Linked DNA regions of Homo sapiens: regions 2 and 3 are each linked to region 1. The links come from fine-mapping of genetic effects on gene expression. Tissue or cell type: whole blood. Region 1 holds a variant in brackets; each other region holds the start of a gene. All regions are shown on one strand. Distances are from middle to middle. Region 1 has its middle 120 kb from the start of FAM174A. Region 2 holds the start of FAM174A (family with sequence similarity 174 member A). Region 3 holds the start of ST8SIA4 (ST8 alpha-N-acetyl-neuraminide alpha-2,8-sialyltransferase 4).

Region 1 (10,842 bases):
TTTAATTATTGGACATTATAAAAGTATATCCTGGTGTGTGCTGAATGACACATGACTGATCACAACATGACATTTCTTTTAGGGAAGTTTTCATATTTATTTTCTGAAGAGATGCATTACATAGCACACCCTGGGTCTCTGTGGTCAGAGGCCCTGATTAAAGAACAAAATGTCAAAACCAGTAAAAGACCGCTAGCAAGACTAATAAAGAAGAAAAGAGAGAAGAATCAAATAGACGCAATAAAAACTGATAAAGGGGATATCACCACCGATCCCACAGCAATACAAACTACCATTAGAGAATACTATAAACACCTCTACGCAAATAAATTAGAAAATCTAGAAGAAATGGATAAATTCCTGGACACATACGCCCCCCCAAGACTAAACCACGAAGAAGTTGAATCCCTGAATAGACCAATAACAGGCTCTGAAATTGAGGCAATAATTAATAGCCTACCAACCAAAAAAAGTCCAGGACCAGACGGACTCACAGTCGAATTCTACCAGAGGTATAAGGAGGAGCTGGTACCATTCCTTCTGAAACTATTCCAATCAATAGAAAAAGAGGGAATCCTCCCTAACTCATTTTATGAGGCCAGCATCATCCTGATACCAAAGCCTGGCAGAGACACAACCAAAAAAGAGAATTTTAGACCAATATCCCTGATGAACATCAATGCAAAAATCCTCAATAAAATACTGGCAAACCGAATCCAGCAGCACATCAAAAAGCTTATCCACCATGATCAAGTGGGCTTCCTCCCTGGGATGCAAGGCTGGTTCAACAAATGCAAATCAATAAACGTAATCCAGCATATAAACAGAACCAAAGACAAACACCACATGATTATCTCAATAGATGCAGAAAAGGCCTTTGACAATATTCAACAGCCCTTCATGCTAAAAACTCTCAATAAATTAGGTACTGATGGGACGTATCTCAGAATAATAAGAGCTATTTATGACAAACCCATAGCCAATATCATACTGAATGGGCAAAACCTGGAAGCATTCCCTTTGAAAACTGGCACAAGATAGGGATGCCCTCTCTCACCACTCCTATTCAACAAAGTGTTGGAAGTTCTGGCCAGGGCAATCAGGCAGGAGAAAGAAATAAAGGGTATCCAGTTAGGAAAAGAGGAAGTCAAATTGTCTCTGTTTTCAGATGACATGATTGTATATTTGGAAAACCCCATCATCTCAGCCCAAAATCTCCTTAAGCTGATAAGCAACTTCAGCAAAGTCTCAGGATGCAAAATCAATGTGAAAAAATCACAGGCATTCTTATACACCAATAACAGATAGAGAGTTAAATTTGATATTTTAAGTACTATAGTTCTGCTTTCAGATGCCATGACTTGCTAGATGTTCATTAAATCATTAATATTTTTATTTTACAGCTTATATATACTGGAAGACTTTTTAACATGCATTCTACAAGTTCATTCTACAAAAAAATGTTAGCAAGTTCTTTGTGGTAGATTTTAGAGATATTGTGAACAAAACAGACACAGCTCTTAAACACATGTTGTTTCAGTCCTGTGGGTGAAGCAGATACTCACAAAATAATAAAAAAGGAAGTTTGATAGGTGAATCAATTGTAATCCTAAAAACTCCTGTCACCAGCACCATGTCAACATACACAGTAGGCTGGTTCGACTTCTTGTCTTACTCTAGATGTTTCTAAAAGCCCAAAAACTTATTTATTGTGTTTCCATTGCTAAGTTATCTACAGAAAATTAAAAATGAAAGTGGGATGTTTCTCACTTGCAGAAAAAGGAATCCATAAAAGGAGAGTTGGTACTTGAGATAGCAAATCTAAGTATGGAAACCCATAGCTTGCCTTCTCTCTGTATCTAAGATTGTGAAAGTAGAATACGAAGGGCCATGCTTTTAAAATGACAGTTACGCGTGTAAGAAACAAATGCCCTGGAGTTGGCATCTCAAGGGAAAAGGAAAAAAGTAGTTGGACCTGTGACTTCTTTGTAGGATGGTGCAAGTTTTGTACTGCACAATACTGAAGGAACCATTCATAGCAAGCTTGTAATAAAGTGCATGACTTGTATGAATATACATGGTGGCCCTGAGTAGATTTCTATGTAAACTCCTACTCTAAACTTATGATATAGGATCTAACCCTGTCTCTCAGCCTTTCAACTGTGCAGTGGCAGCAAGTAGATCAAGATTTACTGACCTATTCATGCAGGGTACCAAGAGTAGTCAAAAAGCTAAGTCAGAAGAGAGGTTCTTCCCCCCTAGTTTCCAGTACCATAGGTTAGTAACCTTTATCAAACAGAATTAGAGACAATAACATTAAATCAACAAATTCATCAGGTAACCAGAGAGCTAGAACTACCAAGTCTTTAAGAGGCTGAGAAACATTTGTGTTGGGATCTGAAATGAATATCTGAAAGGCAGTTAAATGTGTGTAGACAGATTAATACAATGGGTATAAACATTTCCAAAGATTTCATTTAATCACTCTCATTATTTCATGCCACTTCTTGGCTATGATATTTTCAGGAATACTTTTGCTTCTATCTTCAAGTATGAATAGAATTTTTAAAAAATGAGCATGTCTCAAAAAATTTGAGAGAGCCACTGGTTCAGTTGTAACAAAGCCCTTGGAAGCTTTCCATTATATTTAAATTTACATCAGCTAAGCATTGTTCAGGCATATAACATGTGCTAAATAGGTGTCTGTATATGTCTACAAAAGGTAATATTTTTAGAGAAACCTAAAACTAATATTAAATGACATGATATGAATATCAAGCTGGTATGAATAAAAGTAGAGCAGGACTTGTTTCCTCAGGTCTCGCTGACCGAAACTTTCAGCAGATAATAATTAGTATAATCAATGGCAATTTTTGCACTTTAATACAGTACAATTCAATGGTACTAAAGGTTGCCTTTCAAGAAAACTATTAAAGTTAAAAGGTAATAATGCTGAGAAACATGTTAACTGATAGAAATTGTAACCTCCACAATATTAGCAACAATGATCTTAACCCTTGGCTTATAGATCCGATTCAAACGTTGACCAAGAGAGCCAGGAGATTCTAATTCACTCCAATGTCTTTACTCAACATTCCTCCATTCGTTTCCTCATTCATTTCACAAATATTAATTGAGGACCTTCTATATTCTAGGCCCGGTGCTGGGTAAATTAGAGAAAATGAGGAACAAAACCACACCTGGAATCTGAAACTAAAATTAACTTTTTCCAGCAATGTCCTATTGTGTCCGGAATTGGTGGGTTCTTGGTCTCACTGACTTCAAGAATGAAGCCGCGGACCCTCGCGGTGAGTGTTACAGCTTTTAAGGTGGCACGTCTGGAGTTTGTTCCTTCTGATGTTTGGATGTGTTCAGAGTTTCTTCCTTCTGGTGGGTTCACGGTCTCGCTGGCTCAGGAGTAAAGCTGCAGACCTTTGCAGTGAGTGTTACAGCTCTTAAGGCGGCGCGTCTGGAGTTGTTCGCTCCTCCCAGTGGGCTTGTGGTCTCGCTGGCTTCAGGAGTGAAGCTGCAGATCTTCGCGGTGAGTGTTACAGCTCATAAAAACAGTATGGACCCGAAGAGTGAGCAGTAGCAAGATTTATTGCAAAGAGCGAAGGAACAGAGCTTCCACAGTGTGGAAGAAGACCGCAGCAGGTTGCCACTGCTGGCTCAGGCAGACTGCTTTTATTCTCTTATCTGGCCCCACCCACATCCTGCTGATTGGTAGAGCCTAGTGGCCTGTTTTGACAGGGCACTGATTGGTGCATTCACAAACCCTGAGCTAGACACAGGGTGCTGACTGGTGTGTTTACAAACCTTGAGCTAGATACAGAGTGCCGATTGGTGTACTTACAATCCTTGGGCTACACATAAAGATTCTCCACCTCCCCACCAGACTCAGGAGCCCAGCTGGCTTCACCCAGTGGATCCTGCAGGGGGGCTGCAGGTGGAGCTGCCTGCCAGTCCCGTGCGGTGGGCCTGCACTCCTCAGCACTTGGGTGGTTGATGGGACTGGGCGCCCTGGAGCAGGGGGCGGCGCTCATCCGGGAGGCTCGGGCTGCATAGGAGCCCACGGAGGGGGTGGGAGGCTCAGGCATGGCGGGCTGCAGGTCCCGAGCCCTGCCCCTCGGGAAGGCAGCTAAGGCCCCGTGAGAAATCAAGGGCAGCACCGGTGGGCTGGCACTGCTGGGGGACCCAGTACACCCTCCGCAGCCGCTGGCCCGGGTGCTAAGCCCCTCATTGCC[C/T]GGGCCGGCAGAGCCAGCCGGCTGCTCTGAGTGTGGGGCCCGCCAAGCCCACGCCCACCCGGAACTCCAGCTGGCCCGCAAGCGCCGCGGGCAGCCCCGGATCCCGCTCCTGCCTCTCCCTCCACACCTCCCTGCAAGCTGAGGGAGCCGGCTCCGGCCTTGGCCAGCCCAGAAAGGGGCTCCCACAGTGCAGCGGTGGGCTGAAGGGCTCCTCCACGGCCGCCAAAGTGGGAGCCCAGTCAGAGGAGGCACTGAGAGCTAGCGAGGGCTGTGAGGACTGCCAGCATGCTGTCACCTCTCACTGTCTATAAAGTTAAATAGAGAATAATCAGTAATAATTTCAATTTTTTTGACAGCTCAAAATACTCTTATTTGAGCCTAAGAAGAGAACTAAGAGGAGAAAGGAATGTGCAGCTGTGAGGGTCTTAAAAGCAAATGAATCTAAGGTCTGTTTCCTAGTGCTACCTTTAGGTACAGAATCATCCCTTCTCCTTATTTTAGGATGGAATCATCCCTTCTCCTTATTTTACCTGGTATAGTGTTAAAGTATAGATAAGACATATTTGTTAGAAATAAGTATTTTTGTATTGAGCCTAATATCCAGATGTGAATTTCATTATGATTAATCACTATATTTGTTATAGGCAGCAAAATGTCACCAAATTTCATAGCATTGTAACAAAAATTAGCGTAGTTGCAGTTTGCTGTTGCAATAGTAATATAAATATTAAACATGACTTAAAATTATATATATATATACACACACACAAAGAGAAGGGAAGTAAATATTCATAAAATTGTATTGAACAATATTTACTTATTTTAAATACACTACGCATAAAACCACATGTTTATCACTGTGGTATTATATGGCGTTTATATTCTTAACAATTTTTTCCAGGTTTAAGATTTGTAGGAAACCACATAACTGTCTTTGTGGTCTTGTATCTGAATGGTAGAAAGGGCTAAGAAAGAAGTATTTCCTACTCCACTAGAGGATATAGCACTCGGAAAATCCATGGATGAACATTGCTAAAAAGGAATGTGTGAAGAGCTAAACTGAGGAAGGAGCAGAAATTCATGAGTAATTCAGCTCTGCCTTTAACCAACCAGCCTTCCTGCCTTATTCCTGGAAATTTGGCCACTGGTAACTTTTAGGGCCACAGTTGAGCCACTGGTGCATTCCATTCTCAAGGTCCAGTCCATACTCCTAAAATCCACTCAAGAAGTGCGGGGACAGGTGAGAAGTCAGGCCAAAACATATGGACTATGATGCATGTTGAGAAGCTTTCACTAGCACAAGCAAACAATTTTTAAATGCTTACGAGTGAAGTAGAAATATTTTTCATAACAATGACCTTGTCTGCTTTCTCTTTTGGGGTCTCTTACCCTTGGAACTCTACACAGCTGTCAGAAAGAGATAAATGAATTCTTAGAGTTTGGGTAAGTGAATTAGTAATGATTTTCCTTGGTCATATTTTTCTAGACCTCTCTTCAGGAGCATGCAAACTCCCCAAAAGACCTAGTTTTGTATGTCACGAAAGCTGATATGGATTAAATAAAAGGAATCCTAGTGCCTCAGATATGTTCTATACTTCTTCACAAAGTCTGTCATTCCACACAGATTTAGGGAAAGCACTAAATTCCAGATAACCTGCACACTTCTTTTGGAGATATAAAGGGAGAGGTTTTAGAAGATATCTATAAAGACATGATTTGAGGACTCTATTCCTAGCTTAACACTTGTTACAGTATTGTCCTCTGTCTTTCTTTCTGGTGTTTGTGTGATAACAGCCCTGCTTCTTATCAAAAAGACTATAGGCTGAGTCTTGGTGATAAAGCAAGTGGTAAATGGCACACTTAGAAAATGTTTTTACTCCCATGAAATGTATAGTGAGATAAGATCATAATTCTTTAGGTCTTCATTAATTAGAAAATGGTATACAGGAAGAGAAATGGAAAAAAACTTATATTGTTCATCCTCTTGTTTGCAGTTCCTAACTCTACCCTAGTAGATAATACATGGTCTCCAATACTGGGAACCATTAGAATACAGTTACCCTTAGTAGACTTTGTCACTCTAATGACTCATGATCACAAGAATAAATCCTTTCAATAAAGATGTCCAATAGAATGAAAATGTAGCCACCTTGACAGCGGGGTCTTATTATGATGCATAATTATACTGAAAAAAACAGCTGAGGACTTTGGAGTACATGTTCTCTGCCATAATGAAATGTGGCTCTCAGGGCATGGAACAGTGTTTGACTCTTTGTTCATAATGTGAAAATATCATCCAAATCTACCTAAAACCCTTCAAGTGATTGGCCTTGTTAGCTTAATGAAACTTGACGCATCAGAACAATTGTCGTCATATGCAAGAGAGAACTTGTTTAAACTCTCTGGCAGTCCCACTGGGTTTTGCATTAATTAGTAAACATCCATATAATTACATATCTTATAACTGATCCTGACAAAACATTCACACAGGTGCACAGAATATTGTCTTATGGAACTTCAAAAATCGTTAGATCCATCTTCATAAAAAGAACTCTTGCAGTCAAATAACCTGTTTCCAGGAAAGGAATGGCCATGGCATATAGACCAACCTCGACTTGCGTATGAAACTACACTAATGGGCATCAAGTTTATTTGAATTCGAGATATAAACTGAACGTCTGCCAGAGAAGAATTGATTTGATATTTTTATATAATCTGTATTTTAGTAAACTAAAGTCTATGTATGTAATCTGATATATATGTAATAAATAAATATGCATAATAAATAGCAGGCCAGAGTAAAAAGATTTGTTCTTTATTTATTTTGCTAGTTATGAGGAACACTGAGTTTGATAGTGAAGAGTGAACATTCCACTGTGTGTGTGTGTGTGCATCTGGCAAGCTTGAGCAGCGTGTGAATCAAATAACAATATTTTGACAAAGCAGAGTGAGACTATTGGACTTACTGATTGTCCTGTAAAGAAAAGTAGTTTAGAGTACTAAAGAGCTTGAATGCAAGTCAAGGGGGAATTCCGGTAGAAGCCATGGCATAAATGAACTATATAAATTTAAGCAAGTCATTTTAGTATTCTGGTCCCCATTCTTACATGTCGAAATTTAAAAAGCTGGATTAGATGTTTTCTACAGTCTGCAAAAGCTTATACTTCTTTATCATTCTGTGAATAAATTAAATTAAATGCATTAAACAAGAATGCTGTAGTCACCATAGTTACAAAACTAGTCGGAGATTTTAACTGGTATGATCACACAAGAAAAGGTATGAATGTTAGAAGAAAATCAAAATAAATACTATCACACAAAATATTTGGATACATAAAAAATCAAAAACGATCTGTAAAAATCTATATATAGTAACATAAAGTAAACAAGCAAATAAGAGTTTTCTATATATTAGCTATAACAGATTTAAAATGTTATACAAATAATAAATATCCTTTTTCATTACAGAATATGTAAAATAAAATAATGAATATAGCGAAAACTATGCAAACCTGTCTGAAAAAAGTTATGAAATATTACAGAAAGTTACAAGAAAATCAAAATAAATGTGAAGTCATATACTGTTTCTGACTGAGAAAAACCTAAGACTGCAAATATATTAATTATATTGAGAATAAGCTATGCATTTAATGGAATCCAGTGTAAACCTCACAAAAATCCAAGAACATTTGGAAAAGAATAAAAAGGCAAGAACAGCTGTTCTAGAAACCAAAATATACTCTAGAGCTTTAATAATGAAGTGGCAGCCTTCAACTCTGGAATGGATAGAAGGTTAAGAAACGGACAGAAAACATAACAGAGTCCAAAAATAAATCTTCGGTTAGTAACAAGAATTCTGAAAAAGTTGATTCTGACCATTTCTGCCAGTTTTCTCATTGCTTTTATAGAAGGGACAATTTCTGGAGTTTCCTACCCCACATTTTCATGGACCTAACTCCTCTCGTGCAATTTAAAATCAGTTTTATAATTGTGAATGGTATCTATGGAGGTCAATAGAGTGCTGATTTGAAAGTTCTAAATACCATATATGTTCTAAAATGTACTCACCACATTTAGTTACAACTTAGATTTTTGTTAACTAAATATTTTCCAGATATCTTGTAGTTTTCTACATTTCAACATTAATTTCTCTTACTCAGTGTCCTTATAAAATATTCACAAGAATATTTATTCTATCTACTTTAAGCTTTTCTTCAAAGTCTTAACATGATACTGGATATGAAACTCATTGGAAAATGTATGAGTATTTTAAAATGTAAGAACTAAAAATCTTTTTTCCTGTACATATGTATTAACTATCAAATGCACTTTTATGAAGTGAAGGACAATGATGCCCAAATCTCAAGCAAAAATAGTCTTCCCCCCTTCACATATATTTTGATGGTAGCAATTTAGAATGAGAGATGCTTTAGACAACTTTATTAGGAAACTGTCTGTGGAAGACTGGCTTGGCATCTGGAAAAAAATGAAAAATAGTTGAGGAAGGATGATCTATAATAAACTCTCAAATTTTTATAAGCACTCAAATATTTACTAAATACAATAAAAAGGAATTACCCAAAGGATGTCAACATCTTTCAAATTCTGATATCTGTTTCAGAAGACAGATGGAAGGAGAGAGAGAGAGAGAGAGGGCCTTTGAAAATACCTAAATATACTTTCTAAATATAATATGGCAATTATGACTTTATGAATGACCAACTTAGTAATGTTTCTTTCGCAAATTTTTAATATTCCTTTATGAGAAATATCTGCAAAAATTTTTGCTACTTTTATATCATAAAAATAATCTATGAAATTGTGAACAGCAGTCTTAAAACTAAGGTCACCAAGTATACTATAAAATTGATTATAATAGCTCTAAAGGTATCATCAGAAGCTTAGTGACAAATGTTTAAAGTCTAGAATCACCCATTTACTCACACATATAATATGTCTATATGCAATACCATGCAGGTTAATATATTTGTAAAATAATGGTAAAAAAATACAGATAATCTGTTGACGTTGGCCACCTTAATAATCAATAAGAATTACTAAATATAACAGCAATGCAGATCAAAAATCTGAAAAGAAAGGAATTGACCATATATGCAAAGAATAAACCATATGATTTTAAATTTTTTTTTTTTTGAGATGGAGTCTTGCTCTGTCACCAGGCTGGAGTGCAGGAGCATGATCTTGGCTCACTGCAACCTCCGCCTCCCAGCTTCAAGCAATTCTCCTGCCTCAGCCTCCCAAGTAGCTGGGATTGCAGGAGCCCACCCCACGCCTGGCTAACTGTTTTTGCATCTTTAGTTGAGACAGGGTTTCACCATGTTGCCCAGGCTGGTTTCAAACTCCTGACCTCAAACGATCTGCCTGCCTTGGCCTGCCAAAGTGGTGGGATTACAGGCATGAGCCACTGTGCCTGGCCATTAAACAACAACAAAAAAATACATCTCATGTCAAAGAGGAGGGGGTCTCGTGGGAGGTAATTGGATCATGGGGGTGGACTTCCCCCTTGCTAGTCTCATGATAGTGAGTGAGATTTCACGAGATCTGATGGTTTAAAAGTTTGTGGCCCTCCACGCTTCACACTGTCTCTCCTGATCTGCCACAGAAGGTGTGCCTTGCTTCCCCTTTGACTTCTGCCATGATTGTAAGTTTCCCCAGCCATGCGGAACTGTGAATCAATTAAACCTCTTCTTTTTATAAATTACCAAGTCTCAGGTATTTCTTTATAGCAGTGTGAGAATGGACTAATACAAGGACTCTCTTAAATATGCATAATATTTAAATTTTGGTTTTATTTCAACACTTAAAAGAGGGAGTAAACAATAAGGCAGGCAATCTGATATTATATGAATTTTCTTACTATGAAATGTAAAAGATCTGTGTTCTAGCCTTAACTTTTAATAATAATTGTGGAAAATTACTTAACATCCCTGTAAAATTATTGGGTTGAACAGCATATTATGATAATAAATAATAAAATATACTAGTTGTACAACTATAATAGTTGTAGAGTTTTCAAAGTGTTTTGTGTAACATTGCCTTATCACCTAAGGTCTCTTCCAGCTGTAGGCTCTATGAAATAAAGCTTTAAGCATGACGATTCTAATTAACTAAGGTATTTAATGTGAAAAATTTGAGGAACCTGGGAAGGAAAAAAAGGAATATCTTCTTTTAGAATTCATCTTTCAAGGCAGTAGAACTTTCCTTCAATCATACCAAACATACCTTGCTTTTCAAGTAAGTGATGCTACTTCTAAGGAGACACAATCAGAATTTTAAAAGACAATTAATTAGACACATTTTATGTATTTATTTGACTAAAACTCAAGGTTCAACTATTTTTTAGAGAGTGTATTTCCTTTGGGTTACATGATGTCAATTTCCAAGAAGATAACTGTAATAAGAGATTCAGTTGGATATACAGAACTTCAGCATAGAATCCTTTGATCCAGGCTGTAGGCAAACATCAGGGGTTTCCTTTCCTCTTTCTCCCCAATGGCTAAACACAGTGGTGTGCTGGAGCTAATGTATCCGGCAAAGGAGAGCTGATCATGCCCAGCACTTCCCAACTCCAGACTCA
Region 2 (10,842 bases), 120 kb after region 1:
TCAAATTTATCAGAAACAGATTTGTGTGGGCTTAAAGGTGGCCCATATGATAACTTGTCAAACTACTTTACATAGTCCACATTCAGCATTGTCCTACAAATCTCCTGAGCCAGGGTGTCATACAAGCAAATGGCTATTGATGTGGTGAAGCAAAGATCTCCTCAGCTCTTGAGATCACTAGGCAGTGTCTAAGGTGGATAGTATCAGGGCAGGTAGTCTCATACATTTACCCCGTATAGATATCAATGTCTATATGTGGCATTACATGAGCAAGCATTGCTCTGGCCTCAACGCCCCCAACAAACTAGTACATCTCCACTTTTACCTCCCAGAACTGCACACATAACAAATATCACTTAAAAACAGAGCATTCTATTATCACTTCACTTATGATATGATAATCATATCAGGGATTATGATCCCTGACATATCAGTTATGTCATCATCTTGGTATTTTGGCACTTGACCACATAGCAAACTAACTTGACACTTTAAAATATTTTAGGTGTATGAGTAAACATTTTGTGAAGGGAAGTTTCACCTTTGCAAAAAAATATTCATTACTTGCGAACTAGTACTTGTTAAATACATTTCCAAGTTTCTGGGTCTCTTTATATAGAAAACATTTGATATACACTGACTAGCTAAATAAATAATGGCAAACCAGGACAATTTACACATGTTAGGAAAACTCCACTTTCCAAGGAGATATGAACAATTATAATGGAAGTTCCATGAATGCAGGGACTTTCCTTGTGCACTACTAACCCTCATCACAGAGCTTAGTAATGGCACCCAATAGGTGGTAAATAATATTTACTGAATTAGTGACAGTCACTAAATACATAAATGGTTAAATAGTCAAAAGTACTCCTGGTTTTGCTTAAATTAAGTGATTTCTATGGATGTTTTATAATTTTGTAAATAGGGCTGGTACCACAAGACTTCTAGGAGAAAAAGAAAACAACTCATATTCTTAAGTAACCAGACAAAAGAGAAATGGTGATTAAAGTCACATGCATAAATCATTAGTGACTTGCTCCACTAAGGTGGAAATATGTGTGACCATATTAACAGACGTTTCTTTAAAATATTACCATTCCCTGACTATGTGTAGTAAATCAGGAAAATCTTTGGATGAGGGAAGGAATGCAGGGAGTTGAGGTAGGAAACAAAATTATTTCACCTTGGCACAAATATGATGATCAATAAATGTTAACTCACTTTTCAAAAAGGTAAAATTTGGAGGTTTAACATCCAACAAAATCATGTGTTTTAAACAGAAAGGCACTGGGCATATACTATCCACTTTATTTTTCTCCATAAATAAGCTAGCCATCTTTATGTGCAATATCGCTTTAAATTGGTTACTTTAAATGATCACAGGAAGCAGCATGATGGTTGAACATGTTAGGTAAGTTCCAGCAGAGCTGGGTTTGGGCAGGTCCTGTATGTGCACGCTTGGGCAAGTTATTTAAACTTGCTCAGCCTAAATTTCCTCAGTAAGAATGATATTACCTACTTTGAAGGTTTTTGCAAGAATTTCAAAATGCACATAAAGTATGCGGTATTATATCTGACACATAAATTATCAATTAACTATCAGCTATTAGGATGATAAGTAAAAGCTCAAAAATAATCTTTCAGTTACAAAGTATGGTTCTTTGAAAAAACCTAACGTTGTGTCTTAGCGTATAGGGTTGGGTAAGCATTCAAATTAAATTAATATTCTTTATTTCCTATATAATATGTATTAATAGGATCTGCATTTTAATGCCTTTTCATAGCATCCTTTATGTACTTATCTATGTGATTATTTGGTTAATGCCCCTCTGCTCCTCTAGTATATAAGTGTTATAGAAGCAGAAATGTTTGTTTTGCTCAAAACTGTATCCCCAGTGCCCAGTACTGGTCAGTTGAATAAATATTGACTGCTTAAATAAAGGCTATCATAATAAATTTCATGCTCATCTCCACTATATGAGCATGAGCACCATATTTTCTTGAAATTGGAAGAGACTTGCTAAAGAGCATAGAGATTTTTTTTAAAAAAAGTAGAGGGTTAAACTTTTAAGCATCGATTTCCTTCCAATATACCAAATTGAATAAAAAACGAAAAACCAACGACATGGCATGAAAAAGGAAATAATTCCCTGCTTTTAAGGCAAGAATCATTATTCAGCTATGACAAAAATTGCTTTATATAATTACCATACGTGCTAAAACCAACAACCATCTACAGTGATTTCCCCCCACCCCCGCTCCCTGGCCTTATACATTTTACTGTGGAGAGAATGTCCTACTGAGAGGAAGGAAATAAAAGTATTAATTGAGATCTTCGCAGTTCTTTGTTCCGTCAGTAAACAGCAATTATCCTTAAATTTCCAAATCCTTACCACCTACCTGTTCAGCAATATAATACATGAAGAGTGCTCATCCATTAGGCAACTGCTTATTCAGTGCCCATCATATATTGCACATGATGTTTAGCACTGAGGATATAGGGGAGAATAAGACAGAAAAGTCTCTTTTCATAGAGATTAAGTGTTCATTTTAGGCAATCTACTTTGTCCCTACCGTGTTCCTTGCATATATATATATACACTTACATATATATATATATGTTTTGTATTTCTACAGTGAGAACCTGACTGTTCTTTGGAATGTTTCCAGACTCAAAAAGGAAGTTATTATTACCTACATATTCATTATAAATGAATTAGATAAAAACAAAACTATTTGAAAGTCTCATGTAGTTCAATGTAATAAAATTTTACAAGTAAAATATTTTCTGCATCACCTCAAATCAGTTAAGAAAATAATGATTTTGGCCCATTCTTCTCCCTTGGCACAAATAACTAATTTCAGTGCACTGTCACACATAGTTTGAAAATGGGAGCCAAAATGAGCATTCACCAAGATAATGAAGAAAACCATAATCTGGAAGCAAAAAGTATGAGTTCGGAACACTGCCCAGACATTGTTAGCATCATTCAAGCTTTGGATGCCAGGCAGCCAACTAAATGTAGGACTTGGACTGCATGAATATGTTAGATGCTGGTTAAAGAATGCACTTTTTATTAGCCATAGTTCAGAATTTGGCTGTTAACACACATCATGTTACCAAGTCATCCAATAGGATCATATTGGAAGGACTGTATCTGTCCAAGTTTTACAACATTAATGACAGAAAATCAATGGTAATAAATATGTGTATTTAAAATAATTAAAAAGGTGGAAGCAAAAGGAAAAAAACAAGGAAGGAATATTCCCCCCAAATTATCATTATACTTATCATTTTTATGTATAAGAGATACAACATTCAAGGGGCCATGCATTTTTATAGGAACTATGTACAGACAGCAGTAAATAACAGTTATATAGTGAGGAAAATAATTTGTTTCAATATTCTTTTAATCTTTCTTTATATTAAGAAGAAAGTCTCAGTTTGGTGGTAATATGCTTTTAACACTTAGAGTGTGAGTGCAGATTTGCTAGCCTTTGTGAACCAACAATATCTAGCTCAAATAATATTTCTTACAGCTGTGGTTCTCAAATATTGCTTACGCCTGCTGTTTTGGATTTCTTTACATTCTTAAAATTGTTCAGGAACCCAAAATAACTTATATTTATGTGAATTACACATATCAACTTTACCATATTAATTAAACTTGAGAAAACCTATACTTATCAACTGATTTAAAATAATAGTAAACACATTACAAGTTAACATAACTTTTATGAAAAACAACTATATTTTCAAAAAAGAAAAAAACGTAAAAAGAATGACATTTAGATTCTTATTTCCAATTCCCTTTAATATCTGGCTTAAGGTGATAGGAGTAGATAAAAAATAGAAACAAAAAATAGGAAATGGATAGATTTTTATATTTACTTCTGCATTAAATCCTTTGCAATGTGTTGTTTGGTTGAAGCATACAAAGTAATTCCATCTTCGCACAGATATAAACTTGGAATGGAAAGAAACATTTTAATAGCCTTTTTATATATGAGTGGTTATTCCTTTATGATACTACTACACCAAAACTTGACAAGCAGTTTCTTAAAGATTAGTTGCAATGTGGAATCTGAAACAATATCAATGAACTACTTGTACCCTATAAGCCTGTAACAGAATGTATTATTTTGAAAATAGTTTTAATACTGTAGATGCCCTGAAGAGGTCTAAGTGAAACTCCCACCTGTGTGGTTCCCTGGCCCACATGTCAAGAACCACTGGCTTACACTATTTTTTAACTAGCCAAGTGATGTTGGTTTTCCATTCATGATAATAACGACTTGTTTAAAAGGAAACTTTTGCTTTAAATAATCAGTTTAAAGAAATATGTTAAATTACAATACAGAGGGTATTTATGGGAAAAACGTGAATTTTGAAAACAATAAACAAACATAAGCTGCAAACCTACCCTCTACACTTATTTTATAATGAAATAAACTGCTAGACAGCTTTCCCTCACCTTATCTCTTTGCTGGCTTCTCCTAATGGTGAGGTCTTGGCTCTGTATGTCAACTCTTCAGGAAGGTGATTCTCTGCCACTTAGGTGGCAGATTAAAGGGCAATACTAGGAAACACTGATAGTAAGGAAGAACTTTTCTTCTCCTGAATTTTATAAAAATAAAATATCCATAAGGCACCTCTATATTACTATTAATCCACTCAAATATATATTGATTTCCTATTAAGTGGCAGCATTGTACAAATAATTTGTAAGACTCACAAACCTACTAAATAGATATCCTGTCTTTAAAGAGTTTGCATTCTGATTGGCAAAATTTTGACCAGTTAGGTATACAAAAATTTAGACTAGAAAGGTAGAAGTATTACAAGACAGAGTAGTCAAAATTCTAGGGAATAAAGATTATCCTCACTTCAGAGAAAGGGTGCCCTTTGAGGCTGACGTGGGTTGTAGGTCAGATGAAGAGATTTGGAGGTAGGGCACTCATTTATAAACAAAAGGCAGCAATTAGTTATAGGTTTAAATTGCTCCAAAGGTAACAGGCCTTTAAGAAAGTCAATATCATATTCTTAAGCAGGAGTCCCTGATGCTGGGGAAGGGGGAAAGGGTCACAGAAGTCAGCCTTGCTGGAGATCACCGGCCTGCGTATCTCAGGCCCACGGGGGTGCCCCACCGAGGCTTTGCCTCACCTGACCGTCCTGACCACGAAGTACACCAGCACCGCGCCGCTCACCACCATCAACACGGTCAGGGCCCGCTGGGTCATGGGCTTGTCGCCAGGGTTGGGGCTCACAGCAAGGCCGCCACCCACCGAGCCTTCCCCGGCCTTCCCTCCGTGATCGTCCGTCTCAAGCCCGGCCACAGGGTTGCTGCCATTGCCTCCCTCGGAGCCCCGCGGCCCCGCAGCTTCAGCCAGACCACGGCCCGGCTGCTGGGCAGGGGTAGGGCCCGGTGGCAGCGGCGGTAATGTCCGTGGTCTAGGGTCAGGAGGCCCAAGACCTGGCGCGGCCTCGGCTGCCTGCAGCAGGACTGCCAGGGGCCCGCTTAGTTCAGGCAGCAACAGCAGGAGGAGGACGGAAGCCAAGAGGTGGCTGAGACAGCAGCAGCACTGCGAGGCCTTCATCGTTCCCGGACCGCTCTCTCACCACCCGGGAGCCGCCAGGCCCGCCACGCTGGCTCCAAGAGGGACCATAGGCGCGGTGGAGAATGAAGCAGAGGTGACCAAACGCCAGGGAGAGGCCCGGTCGTGGCAGGTGGCAGAAGCTACAGCAGTGGCAGCTGCCCGGAGAACCGGAAGTTCGTACATCTCAGCGGCCACTGCTGCTAAGGACGCCTTCGGTTGCTAACTTGTAGGGGCGGATGCACTTGGTGACGTCAGAGGCCTAGCGCCCAGTGCGCACGCGCACTTGTGTAAAAAGCGAGGACGTGACCGTTTTGGAAGCATTGTTCTTTTCACTGTTAGTGAGGAGCGGTCAAGGATGCGTATTAAGAAAGTAAGTAGACAAAAAGAGATTGTGTAAAATGTACAGCAACTCTCTCATGCAGGAACCCTGAGAGATTGGAAACTCATAATCTGAATTCATTGGTGTCAAACTGCAATAACACATTTAATCTGTAAGCCAGAAGGGCTTAGTTTTCCTTAGCTTCATTACAAGCTTTAAGCAGGCTTTTTTTCCTGCCTATGGGTCCCTGACCTCCCTTTCTAAAGAGCATTTGCTTGTAATGAGTTCATGTCCTTTGTAGGCACATGGATGAAGCTGGAAACCATCATTCTGAGCAAACTATTAGAAGGACAGAAAACCAAACACTGCATGTTCTCACTCATAGGTGGGAATTGAACAATGAGAACACTTGGACACGGGATGGGGAACATCACACACCGGGGCCTGTCGTGGGGTAGGGGGGAGGGATAGCATTAGGGGATATACCTAATGTAAATGACGAGTTAATGGGTGCAGCACAGCAACATGGCACATGTATACATATGTAACAAACCTGCACGTTGTGCACATATACCCTAGAACTTAAAGTATATTAAAAAAAATTACTTTAGAAAACTTTACCATTGTAAGTTATTTCTCTTCCCTTTTCAGATGTAAATATTTTTTAAAGCTTCTGGCCAGTTATATAATTGAAAACTATCTCAAGGGTATGGAAAGCCATCATGCCTTTGAAATATAATCAGCAAGGAAGGTAGTGGGCCATCTCTTATTTTGTGTGAGAGGAAAGGAACCTAACTGTTGTAGGCTTCTCGCTTCAAGTTGTAAAACCACCTCCTGTCATGGAGGAGAAAATTTACTTTTCCTTTGGGTAAAGTCAATCAGCAAACTCAGGTGGCCGGTGATCTTCCCAAAATAGCTCTTAATAACTCTCCACTCCTTTTTTTCTTTTAGAGGAGTTGAGATTAGAAGAGTTTTATCCCCTTTCCCAACAGCAGTAGTCTTCAATAATGTCTTCCTTGCCTGTTTGACTTCAGTAATATGGAACTTCAATTTGTGCAGATAACTAGAAGTGGCCGCATGATGTACCTCTCACCAATGAGATGCCTGTCAAGGGTATACGTGGGTCTTTTGAGTAAGTTATTGTTTTCATTGCTAAAAGAGAGACAGATACAGGTAGATATATACAGAGAGAGAGCCAGAAACACACACACATGCATACACACACCTACCTCTCTCATTATTCCTTTCCCCCTTTCACTTGCCTGCCCTCTCTGCACAGAAAGTTCTGGCCCTAACCTTGAAAAGAATATGACCCAGCTAGTCCTCTGATCCTAGTAGACTGTGGGATATCTGGCGTAAACTATGACTAAACCTATAGCCTGGCACCAAATGCAGCCAAGGTTAGCTTAAGTTAGTCAACCCCAGCTTGACCAAAGAAGTGAAAAATAAATGCTTATTTGCTGTATGCCACTGATATTTCTATGGTTATTGATTATGCCACATTATTCTAGCAATAGTTGATTAAGAAGCTAGAATCAAATCATGGTATTAATTAGGAGAATATAATAATGTGGCAGTAACCTGATACAAATTTCTCATTCTGAGATTTTTTCCCCTTATTTATGTATTTTTTTTTTATATCCTGTGCTTGGTACAACTTGTTTGCAAGCCAATTGATAACAAGTAAATGAACAAGTATATTAAAATTAAGAGAAAAATTCATAAACAACTAATTTTACTTAGTTTGAAAGATTGTATTTCACATAGATATTTGTGCTCAAAATTGTAACTTTCTATTGCACAAACAAAACACAGTATCTTCTCCTAGGAAAATTTTTGTTCATTCCCATGACAGATTTCAAGATGTCATTATATAATGATGTTTTACAAACAATATGGTATTCTAAAAAGAGCACAGTAACTTCCAGGTATGTTGCCTGCTTAAGATCACTTTTGTTGAGAATTGAGTATCTCTGAAAAATCTGATTTTGTTTTTGTTGTTGTTGTTTAGTTAGTTGGTTGCTATATCAGGAGAGATCTGTACTTAAAAAGTTTATCCTGGCAGTAATATAGCCATTTTAAGTGAAGGTAGAAAGTGCTGGGCACCAAGCAGGTTAGTATATAGTCCTAGGGCTATAGAGGCCTGTAGGATTGGATTAATGGGAAAAAAGTTAGGGAAATGGACAGGATATGACAATATCTGGATGCAGGTAGTAAGGGAAAGGAAAGAGATTCTTAAATTTCAGTGTACATGAAAATCACTCTGAGAGCTTGTTAAAAATGCATATATAGTCCATGTCTCCACTTCCAAAAATTCTGTCCAGAATTTCTAAAATAGTGATCTAGAATCTCCAATTTTAACAAATTCCCTTTCTTATTCTGTTTTGGGTAATTGAGAGCTGCATTTTGAGAAACATTAGAACATAGCTTTCCTAATCATTTGGAAACAATAGTTTGATTCTAAGATTTCAGAATCATTTAGCTCTTTGCATGTCCCAGTTATTGCCAAGGACTGCTGCAGATGGGAATTTGGGGTAACAAATGATACCAAGGTTTTATGCCTGCACATCTGGGAGAATGATAATGCCATTAATCAAGATGAAGAACATGACAAAATCAGATTTTGGAAGGAAGGAAAGATAATGCACATTTTCTTTTTTGTCATTCCTTTTTTTTTTTTTGACAAGTTGAATGTTGGACTTTTTTGGGAGGAGGCATTAAATACTAACTCTATTCTATTTTTTGGGAGAGGCATTAAATACTAACTCTATTCCATTTATAATGTGGAATGAAGTTCTGAGTAAGGAAGATGGGAAATCAAAAGGGCATTTTATTACTGATAAATGCCATTTGGAAGCTGACACTAGGGTGTACCACAAATGGGCTTCTTTACACTGAAACTCAACATTAAGATGCCTAATCCTTGCAGTTCTGCCAGCCAGAAGCAACTGCCTTACCCTGCTCCCTGAAAGCAGCTAAGAGACAAACTATCCTGTCCACTCTACCTAAAACAGCAGTTTACAAAATTTGTAGTATAGATCTTGTATGTTTCATTTATAACACACACTTAAGATTCCAAAATTAGTGTGATTATTTTTACCACTTGAACCTAAGTTCTATGAAGCAAGGGTCAATCTCATTTATTCACTACTCAATACTCAGAATTTAGCACAGTGCTAAAAAAGAGTATATCAAAAAAGACAAAGGTGGGCATTACATGATGGTGAAGAGTTTAACAGGAAGAGCTAACTATGCTAAATATATAAGCACCCAATACAGGAGGAGCTAGATTCACAAAGCAAGTTCTTAGAGACCTACATAGAGACTTAGAATCCCACACAATAGTAGTGGGAGAATTTAACACCCCATTGACAATATTAGACAGATCATCAAGACGTAAAATTAACAAAGATATTAAGGACCTGAACTCAGCTCTGAATCAAGTGGACCTGATAGATATCTACAGAGTTCTCCATCCCAAAACAACAGAGCATAACATTCTTCTCATTGCCACATGACACTTACTCTAAAATTGATCAAATAATCAGAAGTAAAACACTCCTCAGCAAATGCAAAGGAACTTAAATCATAACAGTCTATCAGACCACAGTGCATTCAAGTTAGAACTCAAGATTAAGAAATTCGCTCAAAACCACACAACTACATGGAAATTAAACAAACTGCTCCTGAATGACTCTTGGGGAAATAGTGAAATTAAAGCTACAATCAAGAAGTTATTTGAAACTAAAGAGAACAAAGAGACAACATACCAGAATCTCTGGGACTCAGCTAAAGCAGTGTTAAGAGGGAACTTCATAGCACTAAATGAACACATCAGAAAGCTAGAAAGATCTCAAGTTAACAACCTAACATCTCAACTAAAAGTACTAGGAGCCAGGAGCAAACAAATCCTAAAGCTAGCAGAAGACAAGAAATGACCAAGATTAGAGCTGAACTGAAGGAGATAGAGACACAAAATGCTCTTAAACAAATCAATGAATCCAGGAACTAGTTTTCTGAAGAAAGTAATAAAATAGACTGCTGACTAGACTAATAAAGAAGAAAAGAGAGAAGTATCAAAAAAACACAACCAGAAATGATAAGGGGGTATTACTACTGACCCCACAGAAATACAACCATCAGAGAATACTATAAACACGTCTATGCACATAAACTAGAAAATCTCATAGAAATGGATAAATTTCTAGACACATACACCCTCCCAAGACTGAACCAGGAAGAACTTGAATCTCAGAATAGACCAATACTGCACAGCAAAAAGCTTATCCACCACGATCCAGTTGGCTTCACCTCTGGAATGCAAGGTTGGTTCAACATATGCAAATCAATAAATGTAATTAATCACATAAATAGAACTAAAAGCAAAAACCACATGATTATCTCAATAGATGTAGAAAGGCCTTTAATAAAATTCAACATCCCGTTATGTTAAAAATGCTCAATAAACTAGATATTGAAGGAAGATGCCTTGAAATAATAATAGCCATTTATAACAAACCCACAGCCAATATCATACCGAATGGATAAAAGCTGGAAGCATTCCCCTCGAAAGCCAGCACAAGACAAGGATGCCTTCTGTCACCACTCCTATTTAACAGAGTATTGGAAGTTCTGGCCAGGGCAATTAGGCAGGAGAAAGAAATAAAGGGTATTCAAATAGGAAGAGAGGAAGTCAAATTACCTTTGTTTGAAGATCACATGATTCTGTATCTAGAAAGCTCTATAGTCTCAGCGCCAAAGCTTCTTACACTGATAAGCAACTTCAGAAAAGTCTCAGGATACAAAATCAATGCAAAAATTGTTAGCATTTCTATACACTAACAGCCAAATCAGGAATGAACTCCATTCACAATTGCCACAAAAAGAATAAAATACCTAAGAATACAGCTAACAAGGGAAGG
Region 3 (10,842 bases), 250 kb before region 1:
ACAACAGTAAGATACAACTACTACACATCTGATATAATGGTCAAAATCTAAACCAATACAACAGCAAATGTTGGCAAGGATATGAAACAACAAGGACTCTCATTCATTGCTGATGGGAATGCAAAATGGTACAGCCACCTTGGAAGTCACTTTGGCAGTGTCTTTCAAAACTAGACATATTCTTACCATATAATCCAACAATCTTATTTATTTCTACTTACCCAACTGGGTTGAAAGCTTTACATCTACACAGAAAACTGTACACAGATGTTTACAGCAGCCTTATTCATAATTGCCCAAACTTGAAAGCAATAAAGATGTCCTTCAGTAAGTGAGTGGATAAACTTTGATATATCCATATAATGAATTTTATTTAGTGCTAAAATAAAATGGACTTTCAAGCCATGAAAAAAAATTTGTTTTTCAAGCCATGAAAATAATGGAGCATATTATTAAGTTAAAGAATCCAATCAGAAAAAGCTACATACTCTATGATTCCAACTATATGACACTTGAAAAGGCAACACTGTGGAGACAGTAAAAACATTAGGGAAGTCAGAGCCTGGGGTGACCGGGAGTGAGAAAGAAGCATGAATAATCAGATTACAGAGGATGTTTAGGGCAGTGACACTAATTTGTATTATACTATAATGGTGAATATATGTTCAGTATATATTTGGCAAAACCCATAAAATGTGCAACACCAAGAATGAATCCTAATATGACCTATGTACTGTAGGTGATAATGATATGTACATGTAGTTTCATTGAATGTAAAAAAAGAAATGTACTGCTCTGATGAGGAATGTTGATAGGGAGACTGAGTATGGGGAGAAGGTAGAGTTATATGGGAACTCTCTATTTTCTGTTCAATTTTGCCATAAACCTAAATGTTTTCTAAAAAAAAAAAAGTCTATTAAAAATGTCATGGGTCATTAAAAACTCCACCATGAGACTGCAAGTATCTATTCATTTCTTGCCAGCTAGATTTGAGAGTACAGCCAGCAATGAAAACATGAATTTACATTAAGTCAAAGGATAAAGTATCATTTTAAAACCAGCTGCCATTACTCACATTATTTATTTATAGGCTATTGTATAATTGTAGAATTGTGCTGAATAAAGACAAATATATTCTCTTTATTGAAGAACTTACAATCCAAAGATCAAATGAAAATTTAGAAACAATCTTATTTGCTCAGGAGCATCAAACTAAGCATTCTAATAGAAGAAGTTAATTCCAAAAGACTTCTTTATAGTCTTTTGGTGCTCAGGAACATCAAACTAAGCATTCTAATAGAAGTTAATTCCAAAAGACTTTTTATCCAATATTTATAGTTCTTGCACCTATTTACATATTGAGAAAAAACCATGCTGTCCTCACTTTTGTCTAAGTATTGGCCTGTATGGCTTCTTTTTAATTGGCAAATTATAATGGCTATATATTTAACGAATCTAACAATATTAAACAAATGGCATTCAATTACACTCCAAACACTAAATTGCTTTAATTTGGGAAGAAGAATTCCTGGAGTCTCGCTGAACAGTTATCAGTCATTCAGAATTGCTCGCCTTAATATAAAAAGTTCTGTACTTAAAAAATTCAGAAACAGCAGCATTATACAATTGGAGAGTTCACTTATTTTTCTTCTGGACATTTAAATTTGTCTTATGTGTTCCTATAACTAGTTCTTGATTGCTTTCGTTTCGCTCTTTTTTTTTTTTTTTTTCTTTTCTTTTTTTGTTTGTTTGTTTGTTTTTTCCTGTTTGGGCTAGGTAAGTAGTTTCCCCTAATGTAATTTAAAGCTTAATATAGATTATACTCACTTTCCTCTTGAAGATTTTCTTGTGGCTTTCTCATTACAGAAGACTGTTCCACACTCTGGAGCCATAGAATATTATGAGTACACCGAAACTTTTGGACCAGCACTCTCCCTTACCACTTTCCCTTCTAACAGTACTGAGCCACTTCAAAGTTGCCCCAAAGCACCAGAGTTTTATTACTCTCTGGAGTTGCGCATACTCCTTTTTCCACCTGCAATGTTCTATCCTCCCTCTGCTTGGCTTACTTCCTTGTCAGCTTTGAAAACAGGAGTCTGTGTGTCCCCTTCACCCGGAAACTCATCTTCCGGGCTTCAAAAGGCTTAAACACCCCATCTGCTTCAACCCAGGAGCTTACTCAGATACCATATATATTTTAAATGATGTTTCTGATTCATGTTGCCATACTGTAAATTATTATTTTTAAAAGATGCCCCCTTTGAGTGAGTAGGATTTGTGTCTGACTAGATGCTAAGTTTTATTCATCTTTGTGTTCCCATCTCCGCACACATTGCCTGCCCCATAACCATTGCTTAAGAAATAATGAGTTTAATGAAACGATGCATATTACTCTATCCCTGACAGAGAGTGATGTTTTACCTATAATCTAAAATATAGTTGTCTACTGTTTAAAAATCAAAGTTTATCCTTGAGAATTTAGCATCCTAACCATGCATCCCTCTCCCACCCGACCCCTGCCCTCAGCCCCGGATCCCTTTTAACTTAAATAAGAAGCTGTTTTATTCTGGCAGTTTTTGCCAGAAGAAAAGTGAGTCTAACAGAAGTCAATCTAACAGAAATGCATTAATGCAGGCTGGATTTGCCTAGACATCAATAAACTCGAAAGGCTCCCTGTGGGCCACTTGTAGTGTCAATAAACGTTCGTAATTACTTGCTCCTTGGAGCATTTTTATACCCGACCCCGTTCGCTGTGCTGCAAAGAGGAAATTCAAGATCTCGGAAGTTCTTAACTTCTTAAACTCTAGAGGAAGTATGGTAAACACTGGCGGGAACCTTGGGTTTTTAAGCAAAGATGCTGGCTGTTTTCGTTGCTATTTTAAGCTGTCAGGCGACAAGCAACTCAGAATTCCCCTTCTTACTTCCGGCGGGAGGGAAGATTGGAATTGGGCCTCATCATTTCTGAGCGTGAAAAACCGCTGAAGCTACTGTTCAACCTGAAGGAACACGGAATTCAACTGGAGAGAAACCCTGGCGACCAGGGAGCTGGGGACCGGCGCATATAGATGAGGGAAATCCTGGCTTCCAGACACTGTCTCATGCTAGAGGTGCCTCCCGACCTACCAGCCAACAGTAAAGACCGGAACCAAGGCGTGGTACTAGCAGAGTAGCAAGCATCTCTCCCAATGAGGGCAACGACTGGAGGATGGTGGAGAGGTACTCAGAGTGAACAATCGAACACAGAACTCTTGAAAAGTGTCCCTGCCACCCAATACAAGTACGAAAAATGGTGGGACGGAGGAGAGGTGACAATCAGAGGCTATATATATAATTGAGACTTTTAGAGAGGACTTTGCTCTTCCTTCCTCCCCTCCCTTTTCTTTCCTTTCTTTCTTTCCTTCCTTCCTTGGTATCCGAATGTGTGTGGGTGTACTTGCGTTTAAAAGAGAGGTCCATGGTAGCTGCTTTTTTTTCAGAACTCTGTTTCTCCGCAATGAAGTTTAAGTGGGATTGGAGTTTCCTTGACTTCTGCGTGAGGAGTTTCCAAATGGCAATGAAAGGGAGGCGCATAAATATCCATAAAGTTCCTAATGACACCTCTATCATCACTTGTTTCCTGCAGAATCCTGAGCCAGGGTCGTCGTCCACCACCCATGCAGAGTGGGCCCATCGGCTAACAGGTTCATGTGTGTATTTGCACTTTCCAGATTGAGTAATAAAAGTCTTCTTCCTTCCACCGCCGTCCCCACCCCCGCACCCCGTTTCACTCCACCTTGGAGGGCGTGTTTTTGCGTGTGAGGGTGTGTGTTTAGCAAAAGCGATTGAAAGAAGGTACTCTTCTTGCAATCCACCCCTAGCTCTACCTGAAGCATTCCTCTGGCGGGACGCTTTTGTAATCTGTCCCCAGGCGAGGTGCCCTCTCACCTAGATGCGGATAGACTATCTTGGAGCTCCCAGGTCCAGAGAGCTGATGCTTTGATGTCCCAGGAGAGTGTGTGTGATTCTGCGTGTACGTGTGTGTGCATATGTATGTATGTGTGTATGTATGTATATGTGTATGTGCGCGAGCTCGCAGGCGCGTAGCACTGTGAGCTTCCTCTCCCGGCACAGAGCAGGCAGAGCCGGGGACGTTACTCTCCAAGCAGCCTCCGCCCCCTCAGCCTGGTGATTGGCTTTGCGCAGCGTTTATCTCCTAGCAAGAGGGAAGGGCCAGTGACGCCCCCGAACCCAGCTGCAGAAGCTGCCGCCACCTCCAATGCACAAGGTGTCTCATCTGAAAAGAAACCTGAGCCCCAGGGAGGCGGCGCGGAGCGACCCTGGCAGAGCTGGCGCAAACAGGGCGAGAGGTCGCTGGGCAGCGTTCGAGGACCAGAGGGAGCTCGGCCACAGAAGACCCCAGTGATCTGATCCCGGGATCCCGGCTCCAAGCTCTCCTCGCATTTTACAGATTTCACCCCCGCGACTATCTCCCCAAAACGGAGCCTTTATATCAAGAGAAGGTGCGGGAGCTGGGGCAACCAGGACTTTCTCGGGCACCCAAGATGCGCTCCATTAGGAAGAGGTGGACGATCTGCACAATAAGTCTGCTCCTGATCTTTTATAAGACAAAAGAAATAGCAAGAACTGAGGAGCACCAGGAGACGCAACTCATCGGGTAAATGCAAAGCTTCATTTCAGGATATGACAAAAAGTCAAGCCATAAATGAAATGTGAATATAGAGGGTAGAGTGATGGTTAGGATAGCATGTGTGTTTGTTTGAGCTTGCGCGTGGTTAGTGTCATGAATTAAATAACAAAGGCTGTTGTTGAGATGTGCGTGCTTCTCTAAGCTGTTCCCAGTATGAGTTCAACTTGCTCTGTGTGGTTGTGGTGACAGTTGTGTTGGCCCTGGGTGCTCTCTCGCCAAAGGAGAAGTCACTGCAGAAGTGTCAACAAAGAACGTGTGTCCTTGTCCTTTTAATCTGTGGGCAGAACTCAAGAGAAATGTCTTTATTCACCAAACGGTTGCCTGTTTTCAATGTCCTATCACCTAAGGAGATACTGGAGATAGATGGTTTCTCGAAGGGCTGAAGTTAAAGCTTAGAAAGCAGGAAATAGGTATACTCTGTTTCTCTACTTTTTTTTTTTCTATTTGACGTTGGATAGATTAATGTGTTATAATTTGAATTAGAAACTCCAGTACCACTAAGGATACTTCCTTATTTGTTCTTCTACGGCTAAAACGCATGGGCGTCATGGTTACAGTTTTAGAAAGAAACTGGGTACTGTAGCTTCACACAGACTATATTTCTGCTATTTTTTTTAGTTTGTCTAGATGAGTTCAGACTCTCCCCCGCCCCACTAAGTTCTCTAAATATCACACTTCCTTCCACCCGCTGGCCTCTGTGTCTTTGAAGTTTACCCAGGAGGTGGTGCAACTTTGTGTTGCTGACATAGCTTGGAAGGCTTTTTCTGAGGATGTGAACCTGATTGTCAACTCTATTCAAAGTCCTGTTTCGGAAATCCTCCCTGTTCCGGTTTGGAGGCGTCCTCTATCAGAAACTACACACCAGCAGAGATGCCTGCCCAGTTTATATTTTTCTCTGACATTGATTAAAACAAAGAAAACAGCCCTTGCGTGTGTGTGTATGTGTGTGTGAGAGAGAGAGAGATGGGACTGCTAACACACACACATGCTCTTAAACTTCCTGCACTCCATTTCTTAATATTCCTGCTCCCTAGGTAATAAGCATTTATTTAAGCGAGCAAGATGCAGGTTGATCCTTACAGAAGGACTTGCTATTCTGTAGAAAACCAGGAAAACAGTAGCACAGTCAAAGCGGACTGGAAGAGAATGAAAAAGCTAGCAAGGAATGGGCTGGAATGGTCGTCATGCATCAACGAATCTATACATGGTCTATTCTGAGGGGGTAAAAAAGACCGGTATGAGGTCGTTTACACAAGACTGGGTGGCTTGAAAATCCAATCTAGCTCAGTTGTTAGAAAAGCAGGACTTTGGGCAGGGGCGTGGGCATCCCTTGCAGACCTGTGCTTGCCAGGCAGACAAAGGGGTCTTTAGAAAGGTGATGAATGGGCGCATGGGGCTCCGATGAGAGGCAGAGGCTAGAGCTTGAGGGTCGAGGCTCTTTGTTCCCTCCCGGGCCGTGGGCTAGGAGGATAAGCCTGATCCCAGACAAAGCGGCCAAGGCTCACTAGGACTCCGAGGGTTCGGGCCCTTGGCTGGGACCCTGGAGAGCAGGAGTGGGCGGAGCGAGTGAGAAGAGGGTCGCCAGATACTGCCGAGGTGTCCATCTCCGAGCCTCCCTAAACCGTGGCCAGGAAAAGGAGCGCACCTCGAGTCCCTGCGGGGAAGCGGAGCCGGGACACTCCGCATTGCACGGGTGTCATTTCTCCTGTGGCCCTTTCCTGGACGTTGCCGGCTGGTGGGCGCAGCCCTAGGCGTTAAGGAAGAGGAGGCGGGCACTGGCGCGGCGGTTGAGCTAGTCGGGCTGGGCTTTTGCCCGCATCCTTTTCAAGCTGAAGCAGTTTCCTCCCAGCTTGACTGAGAAGGCGTTGGGGCAGGCGCTTGAGTAAACCAAACAGGAAGAGAGGCGCGCACCGGGGTTATCCCCTGCTGCCAGAGCGCCGGCGGCGAGGGGGAAAGAATGAGTGAGAAGATAGGGGGAAACCTTTATTGCAGGACTCAGGCTCTTTTGGTCCCTCCCCTCCTTCCACCCCCACCCCACCCCCACCCCCCACCCAAAGTCACTTTCAAAGCTCAGTCGGCAACTGGCTCCTCCTTCTTAATCAAAACCCGCAATTACAGTGGGGCAAGGCAGAGGGCTGGCCGCGAACGTCGCGCTTACACCCGTGCCCTGTAGCGTCCTGACTGCCTTGGTCTCCTGAGAGACCAAGACTGTGCAAGGAGTTGGAGCTGCCAGGAACAATGCGAGGGCAGCTAGGCTCCCTGAGCACTTTCCTTTTTCTCCAGGATGAAAGGTTCGTGGAAAAGCTTGTGACCCGAGCTCATTATTTCGTTTCAACTCCCAAACAGCGCTTCTGGTGGAGGAGTTGACTCATAAAACCATCAAATCATCTCATTGACTGTCTTTCTACCCAAGCCACGTGGAGAGGCCAGTTTTGAGTTTTGAGTAAACTGGAATGGAGGTTCGGCTCCAGATCCCGGTCCAGTATTCAAGTGAGGTAACCAAGGCAGTCTCTGGCCTTTGGGGGGCACTGCGAGCCTTGTGGCTTGGCAGCAGTTTCAAAGAAGGGCCTTCCATAGTCCTTGAATCTTGCATCACTACCCCAGATTCATATTTAGCTTTTCTGCTACCAATTTTGCAATACAAGGCAGTTCCTTTATCCCTTCGACCCTTCCCCCCCGCAAATGGGGGTCCCATCTATAGTTACTCTTACAGTATGCCACAATACTGAGCAGTCATACCACGCAGATGGAAAAATAGAAAACCAGCACAACCTTCTCACCAACCATCCACATTCTCATATCTCCAAAGGAATACCTGCGACATGTTTTTTTAAATACATAAGGAATTGTTCCAGCATAGGTCAAGTAATGATTATTGAACATCTAAAATTCATATTTCCTTCCATAAAAGCCTATTAGTTAATAAAGTTTAAGTTGAAGAGCAGTGAAGGCATTAAGTGGTGTGTTCTTGACTAACTTTACTTTCTTAGTAGACCTCACAGTTGGCTTATGACTTAATTAGCTCTTTGTGCACTTTTGGGTATAACTGGAAATGTGTTAATGTAAGGCTCCCACAAGTAAAATATGTAAGCATCCTCATTTAATGAGATAATATATTTGAAAGTGTAACATAAACTTTAATGTCATATAAATATTTGTTTTGTTAGTCCTTAAATCTTGCTACACACTATTTTTCTGGTTGACTACAAATGAGACTAACTTACTTTTCTTATTATCCAAAGATCTCTCTTATAATTTGACTATGTACTTTAGGTTGTATTACTAAATAATCAACAATATTAGTTCTAAAACCTATGATAAAATTGAAAGTGGAAATAAATATTTTTACTTAGAGTATTACCATTGACAGCAAAGTTAGTCCCAGTTTGTTCTAGGATGAAACACAACCTCGTGAGTGCAGAAATCTAGAATTTGCACTTTACTTCACATTTCACATTTCACAATTCTACTAAAACTCATAAATTAAGGTAGAAACTATCATCTTTATTTTTAGTTGTTTGACACTTAGGTAATGAAAATACAAAATGGCCTGCTGTGTGTATTCAGGCTTAGTTTCATGCAAGTTCTTTATTTAAATTTTTATATTAAAGAGGAAGTTTAACCTAGTTAAAAGGGAACAAATACATTCAAAAGCCAAGTCATGAAGAGTTTCAGTAGGGTGGAATACGGGGCTTTTGAGACCTAATACCATGAAGTGAAATTAATCATATGTCTTACGTACTGCAAAACTAATGAAGTAAATTGTGGTGAAGCCTGGAAATATTTGTAGACACTAGGTTACCTAAAAAATGATTAATTCCTGCCACTGGTATCACATAGATGACCATCTTAGTGAATTTTTCTTTGATCCAAATAAGCAGGGATCCTTTGTATTATATTGATTTATGTGGAGTGATTTCGTTGATGTGTTTCGCTATTTTCCTTTTAAAAGTACATATTGAATCTTCTTGTAGATGATCCTATGCAATAAATGTTTTCAGTGCAGCTGTTCAAAAGTCATGTCTGATCTGGAATGAGAGACAAGTAGGGGGGTGGCAACATCCTTCAAGCTTCGCATTCATGGGAAGGAAGAGCCTTTTCTGAGACAGAATGCTACCAAGGTCATGAGTGAAACATCCCATGGGACCCATTTAACTTTATACAGAGAAATTTACTCTAGAGCTTCAGATTGTACTAAGTTTGACCTTCTCCCACACTGACTATAAAAAGTGTGACTAGTTGTAGATATTTTCATTCAAAATTCTTTCCAGTGATGAAAGTCTGAAATTTGGCTTATCACCAGCTCAATGAAAGCAATTCAAACAGCGGAGTAAAATGGTAGCATTTTATTCATAGAACACTGATTTAAACTTTTTAAATCTTGGATATTCTGAAAAGGCTTGGCACAACTGAAAACATCATATCAAACATTCTGCCATGTAAAAATGTATCTGTATTTCTAGGTCAATGAAGCAATCATCTATAGATTATTTATGTAGTTAATTATTTAGTTTTTAGAGACAGGGACTTGTGATGTTACCCAGGCTGGTCTCTAACTCCTAGGATCAAGTAATCCCCCCACCTCAGCCTCCTGAGTAGGCACTGCCAACCATACCCAGCTCTTCCACACATCTTAAAGAGTGCAAGCCCATGCATATTTTTATTTCTCCTATGAAAGTTTATTGGTGGTGAAAATAATTATTATAATGATATCAATCTGTGGTTAGAAAAAGATGACACTGATACATCAATTAATAAGGTGATGATTAGAAATATACCTTATCCACAGAAATAGTGATAGTTTGCACCTGAAATCATGTAGTCATATCTCCCAAAGTGTGAACGTTAGCTTCTGTGTATAACCACATTTTTATTCATAAGTAGCTATTATCATTATGAATATAATATAAAAATTGACTTCTGGGCCGATGGTCAGTAAAGCACACCCCGTGTTTTCTGGCATCCTAAATGCTCCCTGTAAGGCAATCATTATTTGCCATGCATAGGCATGCAAACGTATCATTTTCATCAGTAGGATAGTTTAAGATATTAATTTTTATAGAATTATGAATTTCACAGGGAGTAGCAGCCTATGATGATGCTTTGAGCTGCTTCAGATTTAAGCTAACATGTTTAAAAAAGAATGCAAACCAAAATACCAAACTATAAGGCTTCAATTACAGAATTCATCGAATAGCTGTTACACAGGCAATGTTTCCATTGATACTAGGAGAGGATTGCCTGCATTAAAAAAACACAGTTTTAGACTTTGTTATGGAGCAAATAGTCATGTTATTTTTTAACTATATTTTTGACTTTCTAAGAAGTAAAAGGCGATGTAAAGAAATAAATACAAATATTCAAAGGGCTATGGTTACTATTCGTATACCATAAGAAGTAGCTTTTTGATTTTCTGAGTCTGGGTTTACATTTATAAAGTACAAGAAAATGGTCTATTGAATAATGAATTTATTCAGATATAAATGTTTTAATGGCATGCATGCTATTACAGGTATCTGCCAGCATCATCACTCCCACCAGCACCTCAGCTAGTACCATGCCACATGATATACTAGCTTGACACTATTGGTTGCAGGGAGGTAGTTTTTTTAATGTAAGAGAAAATACTACTAATAATGACTACTTAATGAGTTTTCTCTCTACTATAATCTCTGTCTCTCCACCAACTGTCAGGGAAGTGACTCGTTGAGATGTTTTGAAATCAATGCAATTTTTGAAAAATTACTTTTACATGCAGAGCCTTACTTGATCCTCACAAAGCCATTGTATATTACATAAAGTTATTGTAATTTTCAAGGTAAGGTAAGACTACTGTGGCTTAGAAAGAGAATAGAGTCTAGGAACTCAAGCAAGTCATAGAATCACAAACATGCCCAGATCACCTGATATTCCAAGTTATTCTTGCTTCAAAACAGAATCCCCTTCTATTATGCATATATGCCTTCTGTAAAAATGAAATTACAATCTTAGGAATCACAATTATACAGATGGAGGAGCACTTACAAAACATTCTGTCTCTGTTGTCTAAACAGAGCTAGTGAGGAAACAGAGCTTATTTGTTTTATCTTATTTTAGTTGCCAAACAATAATTGTATATATTTACGGGATACAATGTGAAGTTTCTACACAAGTAT

Evidence for each region. PIP is the estimated chance that this variant, and not a neighbour inherited with it, causes the effect.
Region 2: FAM174A starts here. The variant in region 1 is fine-mapped to the expression of FAM174A in whole blood (INTERVAL, PIP above 0.99).
Region 3: it holds the start of ST8SIA4, and the variant in region 1 is fine-mapped to the expression of ST8SIA4 in whole blood (INTERVAL, PIP above 0.99).

The regions. Positions count from the first base shown.
Region 1 is chr5:100,650,285-100,661,126 of GRCh38, reverse strand. No RefSeq gene overlaps it. Among named protein-coding and RNA genes, the nearest start is that of FAM174A, 120 kb to the right of the region's middle. The variant C/T (reference allele first, on the strand shown) is at 4,245.
Region 2 is chr5:100,530,290-100,541,131 of GRCh38, reverse strand. FAM174A (family with sequence similarity 174 member A) reads right to left here and starts at 5,758. Exons shown (of 3, transcript NM_198507.3): 1 at 5,168-5,758. The coding sequence starts at 5,601. FAM174A-DT (FAM174A divergent transcript) reads left to right here and starts at 5,889. Exons shown (of 5, transcript NR_172939.1): 1 at 5,889-5,971; 2 at 6,980-7,052. RefSeq lists an enhancer at 5,500-5,799.
Region 3 is chr5:100,896,655-100,907,496 of GRCh38, reverse strand. ST8SIA4 (ST8 alpha-N-acetyl-neuraminide alpha-2,8-sialyltransferase 4) reads left to right here and starts at 4,215. Exons shown (of 5, transcript NM_005668.6): 1 at 4,215-4,654. The coding sequence starts at 4,542. LOC107986437 (a long non-coding RNA gene) reads right to left here and starts at 4,089. Exons shown (of 2, transcript XR_001742825.3): 1 at 1,828-4,089. RefSeq lists enhancers at 2,813-3,052, 3,833-4,072, 4,558-5,127, 6,265-6,766, 6,873-7,092.